Homo sapiens: one gene and its partners. The protein of the gene in region 6 interacts with the protein of the main gene of each other region in a biochemical or structural test. Each region holds a gene or a part of one and is shown on either strand. Other genes may lie near its edges.

The links.
Region 1: the proteins of RNF26 (region 6) and KRT6C form a complex in vitro, tested with the Homo sapiens proteins (one large-scale study listed by BioGRID).
Region 2: the proteins of RNF26 (region 6) and MAP7D2 form a complex in vitro, tested with the Homo sapiens proteins (one large-scale study listed by BioGRID).
Region 3: the proteins of RNF26 (region 6) and TOM1L2 form a complex in vitro, tested with the Homo sapiens proteins (one large-scale study listed by BioGRID).
Region 4: the proteins of RNF26 (region 6) and CBR1 form a complex in vitro, tested with the Homo sapiens proteins (one large-scale study listed by BioGRID).
Region 5: the proteins of RNF26 (region 6) and TOLLIP form a complex in vitro, tested with the Homo sapiens proteins (one large-scale study listed by BioGRID).
Region 7: the proteins of RNF26 (region 6) and CCDC50 form a complex in vitro, tested with the Homo sapiens proteins (one large-scale study listed by BioGRID).

What each region holds. Positions count from the first base shown.
Region 1 is NC_000012.12:52,471,006-52,475,261, reverse strand, and holds the start of KRT6C (keratin, type II cytoskeletal 6C), read left to right. Parts: upstream 1-1,456; 5' UTR 1,457-1,524; coding exon 1,525-2,064; intron 2,065-2,981; coding exon 2,982-3,196; intron 3,197-3,529; coding exon 3,530-3,590; intron 3,591-3,745; coding exon 3,746-3,841; intron 3,842-3,965; coding exon 3,966-4,130; intron 4,131-4,256.
Region 2 is NC_000023.11:20,008,908-20,012,407, reverse strand, and holds part of MAP7D2 (MAP7 domain-containing protein 2), read left to right. Parts: coding exon 1-59; intron 60-1,355; coding exon 1,356-1,605; 3' UTR 1,606-1,631; intron 1,632-3,500. UniProt on the Homo sapiens protein: Microtubule-stabilizing protein that plays a role in the control of cell motility and neurite outgrowth via direct binding to the microtubule. Acts as a critical cofactor for kinesin transport.
Region 3 is NC_000017.11:17,867,901-17,871,400, reverse strand, and holds part of TOM1L2 (TOM1-like protein 2), read left to right. Parts: intron 1-1,927; coding exon 1,928-2,061; intron 2,062-3,500. UniProt on the Homo sapiens protein: Acts as a MYO6/Myosin VI adapter protein that targets myosin VI to endocytic structures. May also play a role in recruiting clathrin to endosomes. May regulate growth factor-induced mitogenic signaling.
Region 4 is NC_000021.9:36,068,646-36,072,823, forward strand, and holds the start of CBR1 (carbonyl reductase [NADPH] 1), read left to right. Parts: upstream 1-1,378; 5' UTR 1,379-1,470; coding exon 1,471-1,759; exon of another isoform or gene 1,760-1,840; intron 1,841-2,304; coding exon 2,305-2,412; intron 2,413-3,169; coding exon of another isoform or gene 3,170-3,294; exon of another isoform or gene 3,295-3,800; coding exon 3,801-4,178. UniProt on the Homo sapiens protein: NADPH-dependent reductase with broad substrate specificity. Catalyzes the reduction of a wide variety of carbonyl compounds including quinones, prostaglandins, menadione, plus various xenobiotics.
Region 5 is NC_000011.10:1,285,633-1,289,132, reverse strand, and holds part of TOLLIP (toll-interacting protein), read left to right. Parts: exon of another isoform or gene 1-237; intron 238-356; coding exon 357-509; intron 510-3,040; coding exon 3,041-3,131; intron 3,132-3,500. UniProt on the Homo sapiens protein: Component of the signaling pathway of IL-1 and Toll-like receptors. Inhibits cell activation by microbial products. Recruits IRAK1 to the IL-1 receptor complex. Inhibits IRAK1 phosphorylation and kinase activity.
Region 6 is NC_000011.10:119,333,229-119,337,326, forward strand, and holds RNF26 (E3 ubiquitin-protein ligase RNF26), read left to right. Parts: upstream 1-1,298; 5' UTR 1,299-1,894; coding exon 1,895-3,196; 3' UTR 3,197-4,081; downstream 4,082-4,098. UniProt on the Homo sapiens protein: E3 ubiquitin-protein ligase that plays a key role in endosome organization by retaining vesicles in the perinuclear cloud.
Region 7 is NC_000003.12:191,377,894-191,381,393, forward strand, and holds part of CCDC50 (coiled-coil domain-containing protein 50 long isoform), read left to right. Parts: intron 1-1,767; coding exon of another isoform or gene 1,768-1,781; exon of another isoform or gene 1,782-1,817; intron 1,818-2,265; coding exon 2,266-2,381; intron 2,382-2,793; coding exon 2,794-2,838; intron 2,839-2,934; coding exon 2,935-3,039; intron 3,040-3,500.

The DNA of each region.
Region 1 (4,256 bases), on a different chromosome or scaffold from region 6:
GCCCGGCCAATTTTCAGTATTTAAATAGGCATTCTACTACATCCACATCTGGAAAGTCTAAGTATATGAGAGTCTTATTAAGCTTCAAGTTTTAATGATCAGTTTGCAGGAAATATAGAGGACACAGTAGCATCTTAAATGAAACACTGTGAGTAAGCAATGAGGAAATCCCAAAGACTGAAACACTACTCAGGACAATTAACCTGGTCTTATCAACAAAAGAATTGTAAACAATAAGGAAATAAATGAAAAAGGACATTGGAGAATTGAATAGACACATTGATGTTAATAAATACACAAATTGGCTGGGAGCAGTGGCTCATGCCTGTAATCCCAGCACTTTTGGAGGCTGAGCCAGGTGGATCACCTGAGGTCAGGAGTTCGAGACCAGCCTGGCCAACATGGCGAAACACCATCTCTACTAAAAATACAAAAAATTAGCCGTGCTTGATGGTGGCCACCTGTAATCTCAAACTACTCAGGAGGCTGAGGTGAGAGAATCTCTTGAACCTGGGAGGCGGAGGTTGCAGTGAACCTAGATCGCACCACTGGACTCCAGCCTGGGTGACAGAGAGAGACTCTATCTCAAAAAAAAAAGAAAAAAAATTACCCTTCCCCACTGTCCCCTCTACACCCCCTCTCTATGCTCTTTTCTTCCTAGTAAAGCATTACTTTCTTTCTAGCTCAGTGATGCCACTGGATGTGATGTCTTCTATCTCCTTTTGTGTTGTCATCTTTATTAGAGTCAACTCCTTGAGGGCGAAGACTTAATAAATACATACATTTTTAAAATACAAAATAATATTTCAGTTATATTTCTAAAAGGTCTATCATTTAAAGATTAATATTGAATTAATATTGAATTAAATCCCAAATATTTTTGGGATTTAAAAAAATTTAACATTGATAAGGGAACCGGGTGGAAATATACAAGAAATAAGACTGGCCATAAGGTAATCATCATGGAAACAGGTAATAGGTATATACAGGCCCATTGTGTTCTGCTCCTCTACATGTTTGAAATTGCACACAGAAGGAAAAATAATTACAGGAAAAATGTTAATATTTCTGTTAAGGCATTTGCAATACAGTGCTTGTGATCTCCAACATCTCTGCTGGAAGAAAGTCAGGCTGGAAAGAGGAAAGCACTCACAGCATGTTGATAAACAGCCTAGCATGCAGAACCTTTGCTGAAGACAGTGACTAACTTCAACTTCATGAACTGAGAATGCTCTTACTGTGCTGAAATCTCGAGTCAAAGCTGGAGGCAGGAACATTTTCCCTGACTAAAGGAAGTGAAAAATGCCATCTCAGCATTTCATAACTTTTCTGATCCAGGTGTGATCTCACTATTTGTAAAGCCCAGCCCTTCCCAACCTGCAAGCTCACCTTCCAGGACTGGGCCCAGCCCATGCTCTCTCATAATATATAAGCTACTGCTGGAGCCCGATTCCTTGTCCTGCTTCTCCTGCCTCTCGCCTCCAGCCTCCAACGCTCGCCACAGCCCTCTCATCTCCTGGAACCATGGCCAGCACATCCACCACCATCAGGAGCCACAGCAGCAGCCGCCGGGGTTTCAGTGCCAACTCAGCCAGGCTCCCTGGGGTCAGCCGCTCTGGCTTCAGCAGCATCTCCGTGTCCCGCTCCAGGGGCAGTGGTGGCCTGGGTGGTGCATGTGGAGGAGCTGGCTTTGGCAGCCGCAGTCTGTATGGCCTGGGGGGCTCCAAGAGGATCTCCATTGGAGGGGGCAGCTGTGCCATCAGTGGCGGCTATGGCAGCAGAGCCGGAGGCAGCTATGGCTTTGGTGGCGCCGGGAGTGGATTTGGTTTCGGTGGTGGAGCCGGCATTGGCTTTGGTCTGGGTGGTGGAGCCGGCCTTGCTGGTGGCTTTGGGGGCCCTGGCTTCCCTGTGTGCCCCCCTGGAGGCATCCAAGAGGTCACCGTCAACCAGAGTCTCCTGACTCCCCTCAACCTGCAAATTGACCCCGCCATCCAGCGGGTGCGGGCCGAGGAGCGTGAGCAGATCAAGACCCTCAACAACAAGTTTGCCTCCTTCATCGACAAGGTGAGCCAGTGCCATGCCCTCCATCGGGCACTTCAGGGTCCCCAGACCAGAAGAGCAACACCTTCCTGCTAGGGAGACCTAGGAGGGAGGGAGAAGGGGATTCAGCCCAGCTCTGCAGAGAGTGCAGGTGGCTCTCGGTGCACAGGAGGCAGCACAGATGGGCATCACTCCCCCATGGGATCTCTGGAGTGGCCCTCACTCCTGCCTAGGGAGAGCCGTAACTTTTCATAACCCTGAAGCACAGATGAGGCCATCAGAGAGTGGAGTAGGTTAATTCTCCCCTCTGAAGTGTTTAAGAGATTACAAAGCAAATGCCAGGAGTATATGGGCTGGTAAATTACACTCTGGGGTCTGGGTAAGAGGAAAAAGATTTAGAAAGAAAAGGAAAAGATAATCTGGCTGGATTAAGAAAAAAAGGGACATAGAAACAACTGTAAAACATGGATAAATGCTAATTAATTTTAAAAACAGAGAATGACCATAACATCAGAATATTTGAGAGGAGACACTAAATGGGAAAGTAGACTGAAATGTAATCATGAGTCAACATATAATATCTCTCCTAACTAAGATCCTATCAGTAAAAAAACTGTGTACAATATATCAGGTAATTAGTATTTTTAAACTAGATTTGTGATTGTGCCTGGAAAAAGAAGAGAAGAAATGTTGAAACTCACTGATGATCAATAGCTTACAGCGTGAGAACACCTCAATGGTCCATGGGACAATTTCTCTAGTGAGACTGGTGGGGTGCAAAGGAGAAGGGGTTGGGGGAGCAGAGCTCAGCCTGAGCCTCTCCACATGCACTGTAGTAGCCCAGCACCATGGGGACCTCCAAGACCTGCCAGGAAACTGGATACCAGACACTTTTTCTTCCTTCCTTTGCCTGGAAAATGACCATCTTGCTTCCCTTCCAGGTGCGGTTCCTAGAGCAGCAGAACAAGGTTCTGGACACCAAGTGGACCCTGCTGCAGGAGCAGGGCACCAAGACTGTGAGGCAGAACCTGGAGCCGTTGTTCGAGCAGTACATCAACAACCTCAGGAGGCAGCTGGACAGCATCGTCGGGGAACGGGGCCGCCTGGACTCGGAGCTGAGAAACATGCAGGACCTGGTGGAGGACCTCAAGAACAAGTGAGGACTCCATTTCCTGCAGCACACACTTCAAGACTATTGGGTGACCAGGGCCAGATGTGTGTAGGATTCCTAACAACCCATGTCCATGGAAATGAAAAGCACAAATTAGTCCCTAGGAGCAAACCTGCAAGAACCACAGATGGTTATGGGAGGATGGGGGGATTAAAGAAGTGGCAAATTTAGTAGTAGCAAAACTCATCTCTTTGGCTCTCTGTGGCAGGAAAGCTCAATTAGAATATATTCCATTCAGGAAATTGTTGAATCCCAAGCTGCTTTTCTGTTTCATCCTACCCACTGGCTCATATGTGTCCTATGCCTTTCTTCCTGTAGATATGAGGATGAAATCAACAAGCGCACAGCAGCAGAGAATGAATTTGTGACTCTGAAGAAGGTGAGCAGATGAAGCCGGGGGTTCAAATTCATTTAGAAGGAGAGAAGTGGCTCTGTGTCCTCGCTCCCCTGGGAGAGAATTGGCAGGAGGACTAGAAGATGGGTAGATTGGAAAGGTGAGCTCAGGTAACTCCAGGTTGTTGGCTCTTTCCCCAGGATGTGGATGCTGCCTACATGAACAAGGTTGAACTGCAAGCCAAGGCAGACACTCTCACAGATGAGATCAACTTCCTGAGAGCCTTGTATGATGCAGTAAGCATCTCCACCATCCTTCTGTTTACTCTGATGGGGTCTGCAAAGGGGAGAAGATGTATAGGGTTGGGTATCTCTGTAAATGTCAGATGTGAAGTTGATCTTATGACCTTCTGTTCTGCAGGAGCTGTCCCAGATGCAGACCCACATCTCAGACACATCCGTGGTGCTATCCATGGACAACAACCGCAACCTGGACCTGGACAGCATCATCGCTGAGGTCAAGGCCCAATACGAGGAGATTGCTCAGAGGAGCCGGGCTGAGGCTGAGTCCTGGTACCAGACCAAGGTGAGCAGGGAGTGGGCAGCTGCTGAGGAATCCTTGTGTCCATCCTGGAATACCAGAGGACTGCAGACTTCACTGGGGACATCCCCTGACAGGAAGCTGGGGTCCTCTCACAGGACATGCACTCTG
Region 2 (3,500 bases), on a different chromosome or scaffold from region 6:
GATGGGAAATCAAATAGCCTGGATGATTCAACTGAAGAAGTTCAGTCTATGGATGTGAGGTATATTCATTTCTTTTGCATTTAAGCCTCATCACTTCTCGAAACACTACCCTTTCTTTTAGTTGGTTTCTTCGTCTTTTATACAACCAAATCACCTAAAGCAGGTTTGATTGACATTACAGGAAAGCTCTCAGTGGTATAACATTCTAGTGTCTTGCGTCAGGTTCCCTAGAAGCAGAGCCTGGAACAGAGTTTCTAGGGCATGTGATTTGTTAGAGGAAAGCTCTTGGGAGTTTTTCAGGAGAAAGGGGAAGGAGGGAATTCGCTAAGCAAGGATGCCTTCTCAGCTGACCCCATGGGAGCTCTGGAGGATGAATTTCCACCAGAGACAGTTCCTCTGAGCTTCTGCAGTTCTGGTTTTTCTAGATTCTTCTCTAAGATCTCACAAGGAAGAAAAAGAAGAACCTGGCAGCAGCTTTACTCTGGCTGTTAAGAGATTCCTGGTGACAGGCCCTCAGCCCACCACTCTTCAGAGCCTGGATTTGTTCCTTTGCTAGGCCTTACAGCTGGCGCAATTATGAAACTCCTCCTTCCATCTCTAGGGAGAGGAAGAGAGAGAGAGAAAGAAAACCAGCCTTGGCTGGGCTGGAGCTGGATAAGTCAGAGTGGATTGGAAGCCTCACTTTAGAGAGGAAGCAGAGCGTGAGATTGGCTTTGCCAGTGATGACGTGGGCTGTGGTGGGATCCTTTCATTATGGGCCCCCCAACCTTAACTGAGCACTTCAGGCGTTTCCACATGAACTCTTCTCAGCACGATCAGATTCACACTCACAGGAGCCCTGGCAGAGAGAAACAATTGTTCCCATTTTACTGGCGAAGAAACTGAGGCTGCAGGAAGGAAAAGCAATTCGCCCAAGGTGGCACTACTAGAAAGGCAGCACTGGGAGCCCCACTGTTAATTAGGGTTCTTCTTCAACTTGCTTTGAACTTTTGGCATTGGCTTTCTGTCTGAATGTCCCATTTAGAAAGTTCTGGAATGCCTTGCTTCTTTGTGGTAGAATGCTGGTGCCTGTGGGTTTTTGTCCTTTCACCCTTTGGGCAATGTGACCTTGGCCATCACAGCCCTGCTCAATCTGCTTCCCTGTTCTCATACATGGGGCCTCGTGTCCACCATCTGTCCTCCTCAGATTTGAGCCCACTTGTATTTTTTACAGTGTGTTACACAAAAACTCTGACTCTAAATCCTTCTTCTTTAGAAGAGTAGTAAAACAAAATATTGCAAATAGAATTAATATATTGTGCCATGTTGTCTGTCTGTCTCTTTCTGCCTCTCTCCCTCTCGTTCATCTCTTCTAGTCCTGTTTCAAAAGAAGAGCTTATCTCTATCCCGGAATTTTCACCAGTGAGTGAAATGATTCCTGGGGTGTCTCTGGACCAAAATGGAACTGGTAATGCCCGAGCACTTCAAGATCTCTTAGATTTCACTGGTCCCCCGACATTCCCCAAGAGATCCAGTGAAAATCTCAGCCTGGACGACTGTAACAAAAACCTTATCGAAGGATTTAACAGTCCTGGCCAAGAAACTCCTCTCAACACCTTCTGTTGACAAATACAGCATCCCTTTAATAAAAGGTACAGTCTTTTGATTATATTCTAACTTCATAACCCTTTAACTGGGGTTTGTGAAGATAGGATGTATATCACTCAGCCTCTTGGATGGTCAAATTTTATTTGAAAAACGCAAACATGAATATATTATGGTATACTACAACACACACAAGAATTGAGACAGATTTCAATTAATTCATCTGCGAGCCTTCAGCGCCGAGCCGCCTTGTCCTAACCCTGCTATTTAGGGTGTGTAGATGGGAAAGTTGAGAACACTGGCTAAAGGTTTGACTACCAGTCCAGCCTGAGTAGCTTTTTTAGGGGGCAAGGAAAGAATACTCTAGTAGTGTTGCAAGGTGATATGAATAAGATGAATTTCCCCACCTCTAGTTTTGCTCAGTGACATCCCACATTCTATCTAGAATCATTCATATACAGGGCCACAGGATTTGCTATTCTCTTGACCCATTCTGGATTCTTCCAAAGCAGACAGCTATTCTTGGATCATACCTGAGGGAGAGAGAACTGCAGTTTTTGTGTCTTGAAGGTTTTTTCCCCACCTTTGGCCTTTTTTTATTTTTGCCAAAGTGCTTCCAGAAGCTATTCTCATTTGAGCAAGAATGTCTATGAGTTATATACACTCTGTAGTAAGGTATACTTAGTTACATATACCTCACATTTTATTTACTTCAGTTTGGGGCTTGTTTTTGAATAAGGAAAACATAATTAGAGTCTGTCACCAAATCCTTTAATAATTTAATAATTCCAATTGCTCCTCCCACTTCAGATTCTGTTTTTGTTTTCAAGAGAAGTGATCTCACTCTGTTGTCCAGGCTGGTGTGCAGTGGCGCAATCACAGCTCACTGAGACTTCAAACTCCTGGGCTCAGGAGATCCCCTTGCCTCAGCCTCCTGAGTAGTTGGATCATAGGCACATGCCACCAGGCCCAGCTAATTTTTTTTAGTTTTTGTAGAGGTTGGGTCTTGCTATGTTGCCCGGCTGGTCTTGAACCCCTGGCCTCAAGTGATCCTCTCTCCTTGGCCTCCCAAGTACTTACTGGGATTACAGCCATGAGCTACCATGCCTTGCATCCATTTATCCATTTTAGATTCTTTTTTTTTTTTTTTTTTTTTTTTTGAGATGGAATCTCACTCTGTCACCCAGGCTGGAGTGCAGTGGCATGATCTCCACTCACAGCCACTTCTACCTCCCAGGTTCAAGCCATTCTCCTGCCTCAGCCTCCCGAGTAGCTGGGACTACAGGTGCACGCCGCCATGCCTGGCTAATTTTTTGTATTTTAGTAGAGACAGGGTTTCACTGTGTTGCCCAAGCTGGTCTCGAACTCCTGAGCTCAGGTAATCTGCCTGCCTTGGCTTCCCAAAGTGCTAGGATTACAGGCGTGAGCCACCGCGCCCGGCCATTTTAGATTCTTAAAAGCATTTTTATATTCTCGGCATTTTCTCAGTCACTTTATTTTTTATACTTCACTCCCATAACAAATTCACTGGCCAAAATAACAGTCCAGTGTTTTTATTTTTCAAATGAGGAAACAGGTGGGAGAGGCTACAGAGCTGAGGTCACTGTGTTTTTTGTATACTTGTTTCTACCTGACCTCAGCTCTTGCCTATAAGACAAGTTTGAGAGCCCATTTCTCTTGGTTCTTGGTGTGTGGTGGGTCACTTTTAGAGTAAACTGTATCACTGGTTTGGAAAAGCAGCTGCCTTCTTGGACACTTAAAACACTAAATCACCTGAGCATTCTATTTCCCTGACAGTTACGTGGCTTAATATTTATTAAGAGGTTTTTTGTGTTTTTAACATACTTTGACTTTAAAATTAGTTTCCCTTCAGTTCACTTACCTCACTATACAGTAAGGAACAGAGAATCCACAAA
Region 3 (3,500 bases), on a different chromosome or scaffold from region 6:
ACCGCACTTGGCCTCTGAATACTTTTTTTTGAGATGGAGTCTCGCTCTCTCTCCCAGTCTGGAGTGCAGTGGCGTGATCTCGGCTCACTGCAAGCTCCGCCTCCTGGGTTCACGCCATTCTCCTGCCTCAGTCTCCCAAGTAGCTGGGACTACAGGTGCCCGCCACCAACGCCCGGCTAATTTTTTGTGTTTTTAGTAGAGACGGGGTTTCACCGTATTAGCCAGGATGGTCTCGATCTCCTGACCTCGTGATCCATCCGCCTCGGCCTCCAATAGTTTTGGGATTACAGGCGTGAGCCACCACACCTGGCCCCGGCCTCTGAATACTTTAGAGTCATTAATTAATTCTCTCAGAAGTACTTGGGGAGAGCCTCCCATGTGTCATGGGTACCAGGGAAATACCTTCTCTGCCCTCAAGGAGCTTCAGTCTAGACGGGAGGGCAGATAAGAAGCCCAGCCCCTGTGTGAGTGCTGTGTTGCAGGATACCAGGGACATGCAGGGGGGATGCCTTTGATTCCCCACTGGCTGATTGACCACCTTGGTGATGTGTTCAGCAGATGATTACTGGGCTTTTTCACTGTGTGTGGCTCAGTGCGGGGCTTGAGGGCATCCTTGAGTGGATAAATGGTAACACCCCCTCAAGAGTTTATGATGTGGTAGGAAGGAAGACCCTGTAGCCAAGCTAGCAAGATTATGAGACAATATGAGGAACTAAAGAGAGATTGCCGTGTCTCCTGTGAATAAATCAGTTACTTCTACCAGAAACGGTTTCAAAATGAAGTCGTTTTGAGGCTGAGCTGTGAGAAGGAGAGACTTATCCTTCATGTCTTATCCCCTTAACTCACTGGCACCCTCCAGTGCCCAGGTAGGTGGGAACAGCATTTCCCTCTGCTTTAACCCTGTATGGCACACTGGGACTTGTAGCTTTGGTCACATGCTTGGGGGCCAGCCTGGCAGTGTTGCCAGCTCCCTCCTCTGTAGCATCCTCAGTCTGGCATCGAGATGGCAAGGGGCCTGGCAGGAATTGACGGAGCTCTGTAAGCAAGTTTGAACAAGGGCATCAGTAAGTCTGCTGTTCTGGAACAGGGAAGGCTCATGGAAGCCAGGCCATAAAGTGCTAAGGCTCTGTCGTCACGGGGATGTTGCTTCTAAGGGTAGAGAGGGCTCCAGGGGCAACCGGGGGTGTGCGAATTTCCTCTTTCGGCCAGCCAGGGAGCTGCCTGGGCTTCTGAGGTCTCGGCAAAGTGGCAGACGTGCCACCAAAATATACCTAATGCAGTCATAAAATACACTCCTGCTGTTGCTGGAAGTGTAAGTAAACTGATGTCATATTTTTGGAGGGCCTTTTACTATTACTAATTAATGTTATAAATGACCATACCCTTTCACCTAGAAATTTCCCTGCTAAGGAACCTGTCCTATGGAAGTGCTTGCCCAAGTGCATATGCATGTGTGTGTACAGGTGTTCATTGCTGCATTATTTAGGTTGGCCACAAAAAGAGAGACCACAATCTAAATGTCCAGCAATAGAAGAATGGCGAGATACATTATGAAACACACAGAAAGGAATGAGGCAGTCTGTACCAAGTGATGGAGAACGGTGTCTGGAATATTTTGTTGAGAAAAAGCAATCTGGAAAGAATCACATTTTAATATTTTTTAATGATTTGTACAAGCATGTACTTGTATACATACAACAGTATGTCTGGACATTTGTCTGCTGAAAAAGTACTTGTTTCCTCTGCGGAAGGAGGGGCAGGCAGTGAAGAGGGAACTTCTACTTTGAATTCGGCACATGTCTGGTTTTATGAACAAGCATGTACTCCTTTTGTGACTTTTAAGAATCAGTACAAATTTTTTCAAAGGAGATAGAATGTGACGAAAAGCACACCCAGCAGGCTACCCAGAGGTGCATGTGTTCCCTAGGAGCTCAACAGGACCTGTCGGGCCATGCAGCAGCGCATCGTGGAGCTCATCTCCCGCGTGTCCAATGAGGAGGTCACCGAGGAGCTGCTGCATGTGAACGATGACCTCAACAACGTCTTCCTTCGATACGAGAGGTGGGAGCCGGATTTCTTTTTTTTTTTTTTTCCCTTGAAAAGATTGTTGCCATAACAGAGGGATTTCTTTCATAAACAAAGGAAAGAGAGGGAGAGGGAGAGAGATTAGAGTTGGAAAATACTCATCAGAGATGCTAATTTGTTCCCGGCTGACAGGAAAAATGCTTCTTGTCCTCCTGGGAACTGAGCAGCAGAAGCAGCAGGAAGTTGACGTGCAGAATTAGGCTCTGCCCTTTGTAAGCCTCAGGCTGCTCTGCCTTTCCCCACTGCCCCGCCACCCCCAGCCCCAGGGAGGGGTAGCACTTGGGGGCCTCTGGGCCCCAGAGCTTCTGCACCTGCTCCTTTGATGATCCTTTGAATTTGAAAAGGATTAAAGGGAAAAAAAATCTCTAGTAAGAAAAAGGATTTCCTCTTTCCCATCTTAAAAAAAAAGAAAAAAGAAAAAAAGCTTTTCCCTTTGCAAATGTCAATGTTATCTAGAGCATTCAGGGGAAGCAGGCGGGTGTAAGTGCCGGAATGCTGCTGCTTAGGGAAGCGTGCACACATTCATTCCAGTTCTTTCTGCAGCCAAATCATTTTTGAGTTTGAGGTAACAAACCTGCAAATTCTTTTTCATTTCCAAAGCCTTCCCTCAGGACAAAGTCCAAAATGTCTTATTTAGACCTAGTTTTAAATAGGAGGAATAATGGCAAGCACAGTTCCCATCTCATCACCTGATGGGAGCACACTGGGCTTTCATGAAGGACTCAGCATAAGGACCAGAAAGGACCATGATCAGGCCAACCTTTTCCCCTTAAAGATGAGGCTTGAGAGGACAGGACAGTGGCTTGAGTCCCCTGCAGATTTAAGGTCCTGGTCCCCTCTGCCGCACCAGCTGACTCACAACCTACTGCTGGATTCATCAGGAGGACAAGGACCTGGCATCAGTTAGGGTGAGTGGGACAGATGCTTGCATTTGCGTTACCCTTTGGGGACCTAAAGGGTGATTTTGTTATGGCTGTCACAGCCTTGGGCCTTGTCTCATCTTTTGACTACGGAAGTACACACCAGTGGCTCTGTGCCCACCTGACAGGTGAATAAACCTCTGCAGTAAGTGTGGGGGCATCCCCAGGACCCCCCAGTGCATCAGTTGGAGAACAGGAGCAGATATAAGGGGACCTGACTCCCAGCCCGAGGCCCCTTTGTCTTGCCATGTGATTCCAGTTTCTCCATGGTAAATGGGCTTGGGTTTAACCTATTAAACCTATTTAAGCCCTGCTAGAAAGCATAACAGGAGCTAACTAATATGAGTATTTTCACCCAAGAGTCTCCCAGTCCAAGCATTACACATAATTCAGAGGCAAAGCCTGGGGCTGGTGGCTGGAAGTGCTATCCTGGTTAGAGTGTCTTTGATGATACTCATTGTTCATTGAAGATGAGTGTGGGAAAGGTACCCCAGG
Region 4 (4,178 bases), on a different chromosome or scaffold from region 6:
CCAAGTAGCTGGGATTACAGGCGCCTGCCACCACACCCAGCTAATTTTTGTATTTTTTTTTTTTTTTTTTTTTTTTAGTAGAGATGGGGTTTCACCATCTTGGCCAGGCTGGTCTTGAACTCCTGACCTCATGATCCACCCACCTCAGCCTCCCAAAGTGCTGAGATTACAGGCGTGAGCCACCGCGCCAGGCCTGGTCTCTTTTGAATAAACAAATTGACCCTCCCAGTCTAAAAACTTGAGAAATTTACATTTGTCTTATCTGAGTTCCTTTCTCAGGGAACTAGCCATCAGTCCTCCCAGATAGCACCAAGGAACTGAAACTTATCGGATCACCACATCTGGAAAATCAGACACCAGACCCCTCACCTGCAACAATTGCCTGATGCCTGTTGACCCACTCCTCTTCATCTCTCCCTAACTCCTGCTATTTTCCCACATGCAGTTACATTTCTTCCCTGCTATATCCTAATTTTAATCAGTTGAGAAGATGGATTTGAGACTGATCTCTCCCCCCTAGGCTGTAGCACCCAAATAATGCCTTCTTCCCTGACAATAATGGGGTCTCAGTGACTGGCTTTCTGTGCTGTGAACCACCAGACCTAGACCAAACTCCTGGCATTTCTCTAACAATTTCCCACCACTGAACTAAGTTATAAATTCTGAGGATGGATCCCTGTTTCTTCATTTTAAGATGGGGATTAAAAGGTACATCCTAGAGTGTTATTGTCCGTGTAAAATAGGGCTGTGAAACCCCCTACACCTATGCACAGATAAACTGATGGCCCTGCAAATGCCCAGAGAAGTAACCTTATAAAGATTTAGTGAATGTTTCCCACCATTATTGGAAAATCTGGCTAAGTCAGTAGCTTTGTTTTCATATACTTAGGGGGAAAATCAACAAAAACTTGATGCCCTGTTATTTCCTTCCAGTTTCTTCTGCAACTCTAGCTCCAAAGACTGCAGTTCCTGCAGTATTTTTTTTTTTAGAACACCAGGAAAAAAAGAAAAAAAAACCATGCAAATGTACTATTTCTTCAAACACAACTAGGAATGATTGAACAGCTGGGAGAATATGAAGAAAACCCCTCAGAGAACCAAGGGCAAGCAGTGAGTTCAGATCTAGGCACATGGCCACTAGGAATGGTTCTTCACTGCCACGTGGGCAGCCAACAGCCAGTAGCTAGAGACCAGCCTCGGTCTTCGGCCTGCGGGTTCTGCAAAGTCAGGCTAGCTGGCTCTCCGCCTGCTCCGCACCCCGGCGAGGTTCCGGTGGGGAGGGGTAGGGATGGTTCAGCCCCGCCCCGCTAGGGCGGGGCCTGCGCCTGCGCGCTCAGCGGCCGGGCGTGTAACCCACGGGTGCGCGCCCACGACCGCCAGACTCGAGCAGTCTCTGGAACACGCTGCGGGGCTCCCGGGCCTGAGCCAGGTCTGTTCTCCACGCAGGTGTTCCGCGCGCCCCGTTCAGCCATGTCGTCCGGCATCCATGTAGCGCTGGTGACTGGAGGCAACAAGGGCATCGGCTTGGCCATCGTGCGCGACCTGTGCCGGCTGTTCTCGGGGGACGTGGTGCTCACGGCGCGGGACGTGACGCGGGGCCAGGCGGCCGTACAGCAGCTGCAGGCGGAGGGCCTGAGCCCGCGCTTCCACCAGCTGGACATCGACGATCTGCAGAGCATCCGCGCCCTGCGCGACTTCCTGCGCAAGGAGTACGGGGGCCTGGACGTGCTGGTCAACAACGCGGGCATCGCCTTCAAGGGTATGGGGAGGGGACGTGGCCTCCCCGAAGAAGAACCGATGCACTGGGGCTCCTGGCGTCTGCGGGGTCCATAACGCCTCCCTAGGGAGGAGAGGGAGGAGCTAGGAGATGCAGGGAGTGCAGAAACCTTGGAGAAAGTGAGAGTTTTCCAGCCAAAGGGAACTTTGTGTTTCCCTGGCTGGGACTCTTGGGGATCTTTTTCAGGTTTTCTGCAGTTTTTCTGAATTGAGCTTTAAGGCAACTGGATGGATTTTGAACTGATTTTAAAATAAACGACAAATTGCAAAAAGAAAAAATGGTTATGCCAAGATCCAGTGTGTGCACCCTTCATCCTCCTTCCCCCAATGGTGCCATCTTACAAAAATACTAGAACATGATCAAACCAGGAGATTGACATTGGCACAATACTGTAACCAGATACAGACTTACTTTAGGCAGAGGGCACTAAGTTTTTTTTTTTTTTTTTTTTTTTTTTTAGTATCATTGTATAGAATTTTACCCCATGGGTACAATGTATTAACTATGTTCTCTTTCTCTCCTAAAAGTTGCTGATCCCACACCCTTTCATATTCAAGCTGAAGTGACGATGAAAACAAATTTCTTTGGTACCCGAGATGTGTGCACAGAATTACTCCCTCTAATAAAACCCCAAGGTGAGTCTGATGGGAAACAGCGCACCTTCTCTTTGGGGCTTGATTTGGCCCCTGCTTGCCTGGGATTTCTCCTGCAGGCTCCTGCTTCCTCTCCATGCTGCACGTGCACTGACCTCTGTGCTTTTTCTCCTGCCAGCTGATATGTGCCATTTTGCCTCAGGACTTTGTCCTCACTTCTCCCACTCCCATGGCCATTCGTCCTCCCTGTCGCACTGGTCTTTGCACACCTGGCTGACTCTCATCCTTCAGGTCTTAGCTCAAACGTCTCCTGAGAGATGCTCTTTATTTGCTCCATTCCCCTCTGCGTGGGAGTCCATCCTGTACCCTTTCTCTGCTCTTTCAGAGAGATCTTATTCAGGCTGGTGGAGGCTTTACTACCACCAGTTCATTAGGCCCTTCTAATACCTGTCACCTGTCTGAAACACTCCTTAAGCTCCCAACCACATGGTTGTCTTGCTGCCTTTCCATCTCTTCCTGATGCCTTTCCCCACAATCTAAGATATTTCCAGAGGATCCCTATCCTTTTCCCTAAGTCGTTTGGGACACAGACCCCACCACCCACCCACCAGGATCCTGCAGGTCACCATGCCCCACCCCTCATAATCATTTACTAGGTCCTAGGAGTTGTGCCCACTGAGTTCCTCCTGAATCCGTCTCATTGCAGCTCTACAGCAGGCCCTCACCTGTCCCTCTGGACAATTGCAAACCCTCACAAGGCACCTCTGGTCTTGAGTCTTTTCCTCTTTTCCTTTCCCAGCATCCTGCGTACTGTCTGCATGGTCATGCCTCTCCCAAAATCCTTCAGGAGGAAAGTCCAAGCCCTTAGCATGGTTCACAGAGATGTCCATAATCTGCCGCTGCTTAACTCTGGGCCCATTTTAACTCCCCTTCAACGTGCTGAAGGTGCTGGACATGACTATCACATGTCTTTGGTTGTAAACTGCTGTGATAGTTACCCTAAGTAATGGGACAGGAGATGAACCCACCCATTAAATAACACAGCAATTAAGCAGCCACTTTTAGAAAAATTTAAATGTGTGGCTTCGAGTTGGGTACTTGCATGTACAGCTTACTCTCAGCTTTTATCCTGTTTCCCTGTCCTGTCGTCCTGTTAAGTTGTGCTACTTCTAAGGCTCTGGTTCACCAGGACCTCAAAGGGCAGCTCTTCCAAATCTCACCTGACTCTACTCAGCCAAAATTCGAAGGCAGGAATGAACTTCTTCATGCAACTACCACCACACTTTCTATGCGTATTCCTCTTAGAACTCATACCAGTAACTGTCTCTCATATGAAAATTTTCTGCTCCAAAATCCCTGCAAATTTGGCATTCACCTCTCTACGGGATTGTTGCACACCTTTCTACATAATGCTTTGTGGTGTATCTTAGGGAGAGTGGTGAACGTATCTAGCATCATGAGCGTCAGAGCCCTTAAAAGCTGCAGCCCAGAGCTGCAGCAGAAGTTCCGCAGTGAGACCATCACTGAGGAGGAGCTGGTGGGGCTCATGAACAAGTTTGTGGAGGATACAAAGAAGGGAGTGCACCAGAAGGAGGGCTGGCCCAGCAGCGCATACGGGGTGACGAAGATTGGCGTCACCGTTCTGTCCAGGATCCACGCCAGGAAACTGAGTGAGCAGAGGAAAGGGGACAAGATCCTCCTGAATGCCTGCTGCCCAGGGTGGGTGAGAACTGACATGGCGGGACCCAAGGCCACCAAGAGCCCAGAAGAAGGTGCAGAGACCCCTGTGTACTTGGCCCTTTTGCCCC
Region 5 (3,500 bases), about 120 Mb from region 6:
AGCCGGTGGAGCAAGGATGGGGCCCCGAGGGCTGGGGAGGAGCAGCCAGTGTCCCTGAAGTGGAACTGAAGGAGGACAGCAGCCCAGGGCCCTCGCTTTCCCCAGCCCCAGACCTGGCCCTGGCCCTGGCCCTGGCCCATCCTGGTGGAGAGAGGGAAGAAGTCCCCTACGGAGGCTGATATACGATCGTGAAGCCTGCGCTGCCCGAGGGGTCTCATCGATGGGGTGTTGGTGCAGGTGGGAGCCCTGTTCCACAGATAAGACGGGGACTCGAGGCGGGCCCACGATGGTGCGGCTGCAGGGGCAGGGTGGCCCCTTCCCTGATGCCTGGGGCCTCTCCCTCTTGTCTCCCGCAGAGAGCCTTCTCCATGGACGACCGCATTGCCTGGACCCACATCACCATCCCGGAGTCCCTGAGGCAGGGCAAGGTGGAGGACAAGTGGTACAGCCTGAGCGGGAGGCAGGGGGACGACAAGGAGGGCATGATCAACCTCGTCATGTCCTACGCGGTGAGCTGCACGCCTGGGCGGGGTGGGGCGCATTGGGGTATGTTGGAGCACGTCGGGGCTATGCCGCCCCACAGACACCCTTGTCTCTTTCCTGGAGGCACTGAGCCCATAAAACAGCAGGGCTCACGTTCTGAGGACAGAGGGCAGGGGCCCTGGGTGGTTTGGTGGCAGAGAGGGGCTGCCCTGCCCACTGCTCCTGCCCATGTTCTCTGTCTGGGGAAACAGCATAGGGGTTGTTTGTGTTCCTAAGATGAGCCAACCCTTTGTGGTGGTCTCCACTGCAGGCCCCTGTGTCCTCGGAGGACCCCCACAGCCCTTCCAAGCTCTGCCCTTAGGGTCCAGCTGAGCAGCCCTCCAGGGTCTGAGATACAGCCCTGGGCCCTGCAGGACACCAGGCTCCTCCCCACAGGGCAGGCATTGGCCGTGGTGTGGCAGGGCATCTCTGGAGATGTCGGGGAAGCCTGGGGGCTGCTGTGCTCAGGGTCAGGAAGTCGAGGCCTGGCTGTGGGGCCAGCACGTCAGCGCCCTGGCTCCCAGCCATCTCCATTCTCAGGGCACCTGCAGCTCCTGGGGGCATCAGGAGGGCCAGTTAGAGGCTCCAAGACGCAGAGCTCCTGCCGTCTCGTCTGTATCATCAACCAGAGGATTTTCAGGCTGTTACTGAAAAATGGTGCTGTGGGAAATGCCAGGCAGATGTGACAGCAGAGAGGGTGCAGCAGAGAGGGTGCAGCAGGGAGGGTGCAGCAGGGAGGCTGCAGCAGAGAGGGTGCGGCAGGGAGGCTGCGGCGGGGAGGGTGCGGCGGGGAGGCTGCGGCGGGGAGGCTGCGGCAGGGAGGGTGCGGCGGGGAGGCTGCGGCGGGGAGGGTGCGGCGGGGAGGCTGCGGCGGGGAGGCTGCGGCAGAGAGGGTGCAGCGGGGAGGCTGCGGCGGGGAGGCTGCGGCGGGGAGGGTGCGGCGGGGAGGCTGCGGCGGGGAGGGTGCGGCGGGGAGGCTGCGGCGGGGAGGCTGCGGCGGGGAGGGTGCGGCGGGGAGGCTGCGGCGGGGAGGGTGCGGCGGGGAGGCTGCGGCGGGGAGGCTGCGGCGGTGAGGCTGCGGCGGGGAGGCTGCGGCGGGGAGGCTGCGGCGGGGAGGGTGCGGCGGGGAGGGTGCGGCGGGGAGGCTGCGGCGGGGAGGGTGCGGCGGGGAGGCTGCGGCGGGGAGGGTGCGGCGGGGAGGCTGCGGCGGGGAGGCAGCAGCAGGGAGCTGCTTTTCTGGGCCATCTTGGCTCCTCCCACCCCCTTTTTGTTAAAGCTGGGATATTTTAAATCATGTCCCGGCCGTGAGTGACGATGTGTAAATGTCTCATGACACGTCTTTAACAGACGCTTTCATACAAACACAGAACCATCATGACGCTCCAGTGATTTTACCTGCAGTTGACAGTTTCGAACTCAGAGACGACAGTGGTGCAGTGACTTATCCGCAGTTGACAGTTTCGAACTCAGAAGACAGCGGTGCAGTGACTTATCCACAGCTGACAGTTTTGAACTCAGAGACGGCAGCGGTGCAGTGACTTATCCGCAGCTGACAGTTTTGAACTCAGAGGCGACAGTGGTGCAGTGACTTATCCGCAGCTGACAGTTTCGAACTCAGAGACAACCGCGGTGCAGTGACTTATCCACAGTTGACAGTTTTGAACTCAGAGACAACAGCAGTGCAGTGACTTATCCGCAGTGGACAGTTTTGAACTCAGGAGACAGCAGTGCAGTGACTTATCTGCAGTGGACAGTTTTGAACTAAACTCAGAGACGACAGCAGTGCAGTGACTTATCCACGGTTGACAGTTTTGAACTCAGAGACAACAGCAGTGCAATGACTTATCCGCAGTGGACAGTTTTGAACTCAGGAGACAGCAGTGCAGTGACTTATCCACAGTGGACAGTTTTGAACTAAACTTAGAGATGACAGCGGTGCAGTGACTTATCCACAGTTGACAGTTTTGAACTCAGGAGACAGCAGTGCAGTGACTTATCCGCAGTGGACAGTTTTGAACTAAACTCAGAGACGACAGCGGTGCAGTGACTTATCCGCAGTTGACAGTTTTGAACTCAGAGGTGACAGTGGTGCAGTGACTTATCCACAGTGGACAGTTTTGAACTCAGAGTTGACAGCAGTGCAGTGACTTATGTGAAGTTGACACTTTCAAACTCAGACACCACAGCAGTGCAGTGTGGTTCCCCCCAGGCCGACTCGACACCTACACTGGGATGTCCCTCCTGTCACCATCCTCTCTCAGTCACATCCCAGTTAGAAGGGGGTCTGTAAGCCCGAGCCATGTCACCTCCTGGATTTGAGGAGGTGGTGCAGGGGTGGGAGCAGGGCCCAGCGTCCCCTGTGCACTCAGGGCTCGTGTAGCGAGGGTGATTCTGGGCTGGCATGGGGAGGGCGATTCTGGGCTGGCGTGGGGAGGGCAATTGTGGGGAGGGCGATTCCCGAGGTTCTGATGGGTGGATGTTCCTCCTTGACCCCGGGACCATCTCCGCTGTGTTTCAGCTGCTTCCAGCTGCCATGGTGATGCCACCCCAGCCCGTGGTCCTGATGCCAACAGTGTACCAGCAGGGCGTTGGCTATGTGCCCATCACAGGTGCGTGTGCTCCCTCCCTGGGTGCCTCTCCCCTGGTAGAAACCCCAGGGCCTAGGGCAGGTGCGGGAGGAGGGAACGGGGCTTAGAGCGCCGGGGTGGGGACGTCATCCATTCTAGAATCCTGTAGACGTGCTGACCGCACACAGATCCTTTCAGGCCAGGAAGCCAAGGCTTACGTTTGAATTTTGTTTGCATATCTAGAAAATAGAATTGTTTTTTTTTTTTTTTTCTAATTGTTGGCAGAAATGAGGTGAGTTGAAATTTTCAGAGATGTGGAAATGTGGCTTTGAAACCCCGTTGTGCCCAGCTCTGTGCAGGAGAACCTCACGCCCCTGTCAGGTGACACGTGCTCTGCACTGTGCCGTCGTG
Region 6 (4,098 bases):
CCAGGGCCTGAGAGCAGGGAGAGAGAAAGGGTAGGAAGAAGCCAGAGGAGTTTCAGCGACTGCAGTCCTTCCTCTGCACTATAGCGTACCCCTACCACGATCCCAAGGCCTCAGTAAAGGTTTGCTGCACACCTCAGCTTCTTATCAGTGATGCTTTGGAGAATGAAGGACTCTGAGGCAGTGTTCAGGGCAGACTGAAGGAGGACGGACACTTTCAGGAGCCCAGGAGTGGAGATGGAGAATTCAACTCAAGTAGGAAATTCAGCAAAGGTGACCAGGGGAAAGATAAGTCCACTAGGAGTCTGCTAAGCATCCTTGGAGTTAGTAGAAAACGCCAGGATTCCCAATATATTTGGGATGGGGTTTCAAATATATTTTGACTATTGTTTGAGTATTAAAGAAAAGGGCAGGGCCGGGCTTGGTGGCTCACGCCTGTAATCTCAGCACTTTGGGAGGCCGAGGCGGGTGGATCACGAGGTTCAGGAGTTCGAGGCCAGCCTGGCCAACATGGTGAAACCTCGTCTCTACTAAAAATACAAAAATTAGCCGGGTGAGGTGGTGGGCACCTGTACTACCCGGGAGGCTGAGGCAGGAGAATCGCTTGAACCCGGGAGGCAGAGGTTGCAGTGAGCCGAGATCGCGCCACTGCACTCTAGGGTAGGAAGGCCCAGGGTAGGAAGCTGAGCGGTTTCTAAATCTGTAGCCCCTTTTTCTCAATGACAATGAAGTAATCTTCCGAGATGTTGAAAAACCTGGTGAGGAAAGTTTGGAATAGCAGTTTGGGAATCCCCTGTAATAATCTGCTTTCCCTTGTGAACAGCAGGCACTGTCTTAAAATTTTTTTGTATCCTCAATGCACTGTAGGAGTTCAATAAATGATAGAATAGATGAATAAATAGAAGAGAATGAGGAGACGGATCTGGGCAGGCTGCGAAGGCGGTGCTATTCCAAAGCCCAGCCCAGAGGCAGTGACCTCCGACCCAAGCCAAAAAAAAAACCTCGCGTTCAGAGGCCGGGAGAAAGAACAGCTCCCAAATTGAGGGGAGTCCAAGACCCTGCTCTTTTAGAGGGTGGGGCTAGGAGAGCGTATTTCGACGCTGCCCGCCAACGAACCAATCCCCGCCTAAAGGGGGAGGGGATTTAATCTGTCGCCTCTCCTTCCCTTTGGAAAGTAAATACGTTCGGGCGCCATTCAAACGGACCAATGAGTGATCGACGTTTTTGTGGTTGGCCTTCACCGATTGGCTGGAGTTTGTCGTCCCTCCCTCCTCGTCACGCCTCTGGCTCCACCCCTTTGCACACAAGATGGCGGCGCCCAGCGGAGTAGGGGCTGCGCTTGGGGTTTGCTGAAGCTGGCTGCCTCTCCCACTCCCCTTTTGGGTGCAAAGCGCCGCTAGCGGGAAGACGGGGGCCGGGCGGGGACAGGGGCACCTGCGTAGCTGGACTGAGAGCCTGCGCCCAGCTTACATCGACCCCACCCGGCCCCGGCCCGACCCGACGCGACCCGATCCGATCCGATCCCATTCCATCCGTTCCTCGTCTCCTCCCGGTCTGACCCGTTGCCCGGCCGTGGTTCGCCACACCAGGCATCCAAAGCTGAGGTCGCTCCTACGGCCTGGGCTCGCCTTCGCTTTAGAGATGTTTGGCCTCTTCCCTCCCAAACAGCCCATCTTCAAAACCTGGACTCTTGGACTGGCACCTGGCCACCTTTCCCTCTACCAAGACTCCACTTCCGTCTTACCCACTTCTTCCTCAGATTCTTGGTACCCCCTGGGTTGGAGACTGCTCATTTTCCTTCCAAATTAATCCCAGACCCCCTAAAATATTGACAACCTTGACAACCCCCCAACCGAGGAGCCAGACTTTGTTTTGGACTAACTTCCATAGCCCTATCATGGAGGCAGTGTACCTGGTAGTGAATGGGTTGGGCCTGGTGCTGGACGTGCTGACCTTGGTGTTGGACCTCAACTTCCTGCTGGTGTCCTCCCTCCTGGCTTCCCTGGCCTGGCTCCTGGCCTTCGTCTACAACCTGCCGCACACGGTACTGACTAGTCTTCTGCACTTGGGCCGCGGAGTCTTGCTTTCATTGCTGGCCTTGATCGAAGCCGTGGTCCGGTTCACATGTGGGGGCTTGCAGGCCTTGTGTACTCTGCTGTATAGCTGCTGCTCTGGCCTAGAGAGCCTAAAGCTCCTGGGGCACCTGGCCTCTCATGGGGCACTGCGGAGCAGGGAGATACTGCACCGGGGCGTCCTCAATGTGGTCTCCAGTGGCCATGCTTTGCTGCGCCAGGCCTGTGACATCTGTGCCATTGCCATGAGCCTGGTGGCTTATGTGATCAACAGCCTGGTCAACATCTGCCTCATCGGCACTCAGAACCTCTTTTCCCTGGTGCTGGCCCTGTGGGATGCAGTGACCGGGCCTCTGTGGAGGATGACGGACGTAGTGGCTGCCTTCCTAGCCCACATTTCCAGCAGTGCTGTGGCCATGGCCATCCTCCTTTGGACACCCTGCCAACTAGCCCTGGAGCTGCTGGCCTCAGCTGCCCGCCTCCTGGCCAGCTTTGTGCTTGTCAATCTCACTGGCTTGGTGTTGCTAGCTTGTGTGCTGGCAGTGACGGTGACTGTGTTGCATCCGGACTTCACCCTGAGGCTGGCTACCCAGGCACTCAGCCAGCTCCATGCCCGGCCATCCTACCACCGTCTTCGAGAGGATGTCATGCGGCTCTCTCGCCTAGCACTGGGCTCAGAGGCCTGGCGCCGAGTCTGGAGCCGCAGTCTGCAGCTGGCGAGTTGGCCAAACCGGGGAGGGGCACCTGGAGCTCCCCAGGGTGACCCTATGAGGGTATTCTCAGTTAGGACCCGGAGACAGGACACTCTTCCTGAAGCGGGGCGCAGATCAGAGGCAGAAGAGGAGGAGGCCAGGACCATCAGAGTGACACCTGTCAGGGGCCGAGAGAGGCTCAATGAGGAGGAGCCTCCAGGTGGGCAAGACCCTTGGAAATTGCTGAAGGAGCAAGAGGAGCGGAAGAAGTGTGTCATCTGCCAGGACCAGAGCAAGACAGTGTTGCTCCTGCCCTGCCGGCATCTGTGCCTGTGCCAGGCCTGCACTGAAATCCTGATGCGCCACCCCGTCTACCACCGCAATTGCCCGCTCTGCCGCCGGGGCATCCTGCAGACCCTCAATGTCTACCTCTGAAGCCTCCTTCCCTGCCTGCCCACCCCTCCATGCTCCACGCAGGCACTCACGCTAGGACAGCATTAACACCTCATCTCCGGGTCCTGGTCTGAATCCCCTCCTACCCCTGTGGCCATCCTGCCATACATCCAGGACATTGAGTTGGAAGACTATGATCTGGGTGGGGGCAGGATAACATGGCTTCTCTTTACCCAGTGGGTCCCTTCGATGCTGAGGGTGGTGAGTATGTCACTATGCAAGGGCCCTGAGACTATTTGCTGTGGGCTCTCCTCCAGCCTGCCCAGGGCCCACCCAGATGCCTCTGGGGTTACCCCTGTCTGCTTCTGGTTTTTCTGTTGGAGATCTATAGGTCCTTTTCCTGCCTCCTTCACATTTCCTCCCCAGCTTTTGCGGCCACAACACATCAGTGTCATTTGGGTGTTTTGGCAACTCAGGGGCCTTCGGATGATCTTAAACCTTTGTGTTCAGCCAGAGCCCCTGTGCCCTGGTAGGCGTTGGGGTTAGTATCTCTCGGGTGCCCTCAGAGCCACCTCTGCCTGTGATCGTCTGATGAGGCTCCCTCCCAACCTGATCCAAAAGCCAGTCTCAGGAGTTTACCCCTGGGATGGGGGATGCATCTGCACCTGACTTTGGGGCCACGTGCCCTGTGGCACCCCAGCTCACTGGGAGTCTCAGGAGGGATAACCGGATTTCTGCTCTTTCCCCTGTCACTCCCACATCACACAGAAAAATGGCATTCCTCTCTGTCTCTCCCTGGCATGGAGAGGGCAGACTGTGCACATTTCACTAGGGTCCAAATACAGAAGGGCCCAGGGCCCAGGGGCTTGCAGCTTCGTGAGGGGTCTCTGGCCCAGTTTCCAATGAATAAAGTTCTCTTGACAGCTCTGACAGTCTCTGTGTGC
Region 7 (3,500 bases), on a different chromosome or scaffold from region 6:
AGTTTCTAGAGTCTGTTTAGGATACTGAGATGAGGGAAGCTAGTCTGTTAATTTCCTTCAGTTAATTACATTTAAAAAATTTTTGGACATCTTTGTTTAATGACGGCCTTACACTGCACTGTGAGTTCTTTTTCTATATCCTTACAAAAATTTTTGTCACCTTGGGTCCAGAGGACACTGCAGAGAATGGGCATCCTGACAGTGCAGAAATTTAGTATTCCAGGCTGTGGAGATTTTCTACTTAATGAGATTTACAGATTCCAGTGATACATCAAGGGTTTAAATAAACCATTTCCCCTCTAAATATTTGGAACTGAGAGATATTACCTCAGATTCTGACTCTTACTAAGTCATCATTCTCTTTTTAACTGCCAGAGGTTACAGTCTTATCACCCTGTCAAAACAATTAGACTATTCAATGGAATATTGTCTTTGGTAGAATTTAAAACAATGTGTCTTTAATAAAACTGAAAGTGAAAAATCTTCTTGGCTAATTCTGTGGTGTACTTTAGGAGGCATAATAGTGGAGAAAATTTGGTCTCTTGAAATTTGAGCACATCCCACTGTATTATTTCACTGTATGGCAAAAGTGAAGGAGGTAGGCATGTTCTGTCATCCTTAATTAAGCTTTGGGCTGCTTATTGAAGTATCATTTTTTCTATAGATTGGAACATGGTTTATATAGCAGACTATCTTGTCCACTGACATTGCCCAGTACTGAGTTCCTTATCTAATTTCATTTTCTCTGAAATCTGCCTTCCTAGTTCTGACTAAGCTAAATAACTCAGGGAGATTTATATTCTATTTCAGATGGTCCACTCTTGGGACTATGCCACTGTTTTTTTGTTTGTTTGTTTGTTTGTTTTTGCTGTCCCAAACCACTTAGAAATCTAGATTAAGCCCAGCCCAGCATAAGACTCCGTGGCTCTAGAGTTGATTTGAAGTGATCTGTGCAATCAGGTTCTATTAGGTCTGAAGCTAAGAAAGCCATGTTTACTAGTCTGTCTTTGTAGGAAATACAGATGTGTATGAGTCTGTGGCTTCTGAAGCCGCAGAAGCCAGGTTGAAAGTTGTACAAAGGTGGGCTTCACAAAATACTTACATTCTCATCATTTGCCCAGTGTTTACTTGTATTTTATTTTTTTAAAGATTAACAGCAAGTGAGTCAAGTGTGGTGAGGGATTTTGACAAAAATCATTTTAATTTACAGTAATTTTAATGGACATAATACACTAAACAGGTGATGCCAATATTAATTGCAAGTAAGAATGAACTGGGGAGATTTAAAACAAACTTACTCAAGGACAGGGCACACCCAGGCTACTTAATTTAGAATCTGTGGGGGTTGGGGCAAATATTTTTATACGTGTTCAAAGCACCCTCATGTGATTCGAATATATAGCCCTGATTGACAACCCCTGGCATAAAGAGACAATCAGGAGTACATTTTCTTTCTCCTCTGAATAGTTAATTTACTGAAATGAACTATTTCAGATAAGTAATCTTGTTCACTGTATTCAAAATTTTTATTAATTCTGAATATAATACACTCACACTGTCAAGTAAAAGTTTAAAGCCAGAATTGCTTTATAGGAATAAATTGGAATAGAACTCTGGTCATTGTGCTCTCAATATAGCTCTGATTATATTTTCCCTAAGATGTCACAGTGCTATCAGTCTGATCAAAGCTGTGGGGAAGTTCTAAAGCGAGTGGGTTTATTTACTCTCAGAGGAAAAGCCATGGCAGGACCACTGCTTGTCTCACAGGTATTATCACATGACTGCCAGGTGCTGCTGTTCCTGCTCCCTCGGAAGTAGTAAGTATGCAGGCTGAGATAAATAGAAAGAAGCCTCTACTCTCCTCCAGCCTTGACAGCTTAGCCTCTTTTAAACTCTGACTCTGTAATTTGCTTTTCTTTAAATTATTTTTGTTTTCAATGACTTTTTTTTCACTTTGTATTTTTCCAGGGCCTCACTTGCAACTTCTTACATAAATTTCTGCTGTTGCAGAAACTATGTGAGAGGGGACTTTTTACCAGGCAGGCTTGCTTAGATATCTTTGTTTAAATGTATGCATTATCTACATTGCCACTTCCATTCCTAGGGCAAAAATATTTTTAATGCACCCCACACTGTATTCTGGAGTAGAGGTAGTATTGTCATTGTTAGCTACTAAAGAAAAATCTCCTTTATCTTAAATTTCTTAACTTTTCAGAAAACATCCTCGGTTGTTTTATTACATTGAGTTTTTTTTTTTTTTTAAAGGAATGAAGCCAAGAGTGATGAAAGAAGCTGTATCTACTCCATCACGAATGGCCCACAGGGATCAGGAATGGTATGATGCTGAAATTGCCAGAAAACTGCAAGAAGAAGAACTTTTGGTGAGCAAATTTTAAGGCAAAAGTTTAGATATATTGATGGGTATTTTTTTTGTGAATCTAGTCCATCTTGAAATTATATTAATAGTCCTCTATCAATTGAGAAACCTTTTTTTATGAGTGGAAAAATCATGACAATAGGAATAGAGTATCCACTTTTGCTTAGTGAGTAAGCATTAGCAGCAAAGTCCATAACTCCATTTCTCCATCTCCATGATTGTTCTCCATAACCCTGCTGTAGGATTTGATAAAAAGAGCTCCTGCTCTGGCTGGTGAAAGCATACCAACTGATTATCAACCTCAGGAACATGAGTCACAATTATTTTCAAAAACCAGCTTATTTTGTACAAGATACTGAAAATGCACAACATAGATTCCAATTAAATTCTTTGTTTTTGTATTTTCGATATCATAGGCTACCCAGGTGGACATGAGAGCCGCTCAAGTAGCTCAAGATGAAGTAAGTTAATGAGTTTAGCTGATATTCTTTGGAAATATCCTAGTATATTTCTATCTGCACCTCTGCAGTTAATGATATTGACTGTATTTTGTTTAGGAAATCGCTCGACTTCTAATGGCTGAAGAAAAGAAAGCTTACAAAAAAGCCAAGGAGCGGGAGAAATCATCTTTGGACAAAAGAAAGCAAGACCCCGAGTGGAAGGTAGAGTGTGTTTTGTTTGTTTTCTAATTAGAAATAAAATTAGAAATGAAAAGGGGACTCTGCTTTTGAGTTAAGCTCTGCAAATATATTTAGGATATATGAATATATAAATTATCTGTATTGCATATGTGAATCTGATCTGTGAAGATTCCATCACCATGAAAAATCACTGAATTTTGGAACATATGTAAAAAGTTACTGCTAAGATTGAAAACTCATTCTGTTCCCTTTAAGACGGAGTGAAATGCAAGTGCTTCTGGTCATGAACAGTCTTAGTTTTCATATACAGTACTTTGATTATAGAAGAATATAGCATTTTCACATGCTTTCATATTTTCCACAATGAACTTCTCTTCCCGTCTCTACTTTCTTTGTGCTTACATTATCTTTCATCTCTATCATGTATCCGTTTCTCTTTCCTTTGATGTAACATGGTTTGTGGCAGACTGAAAGATACATAC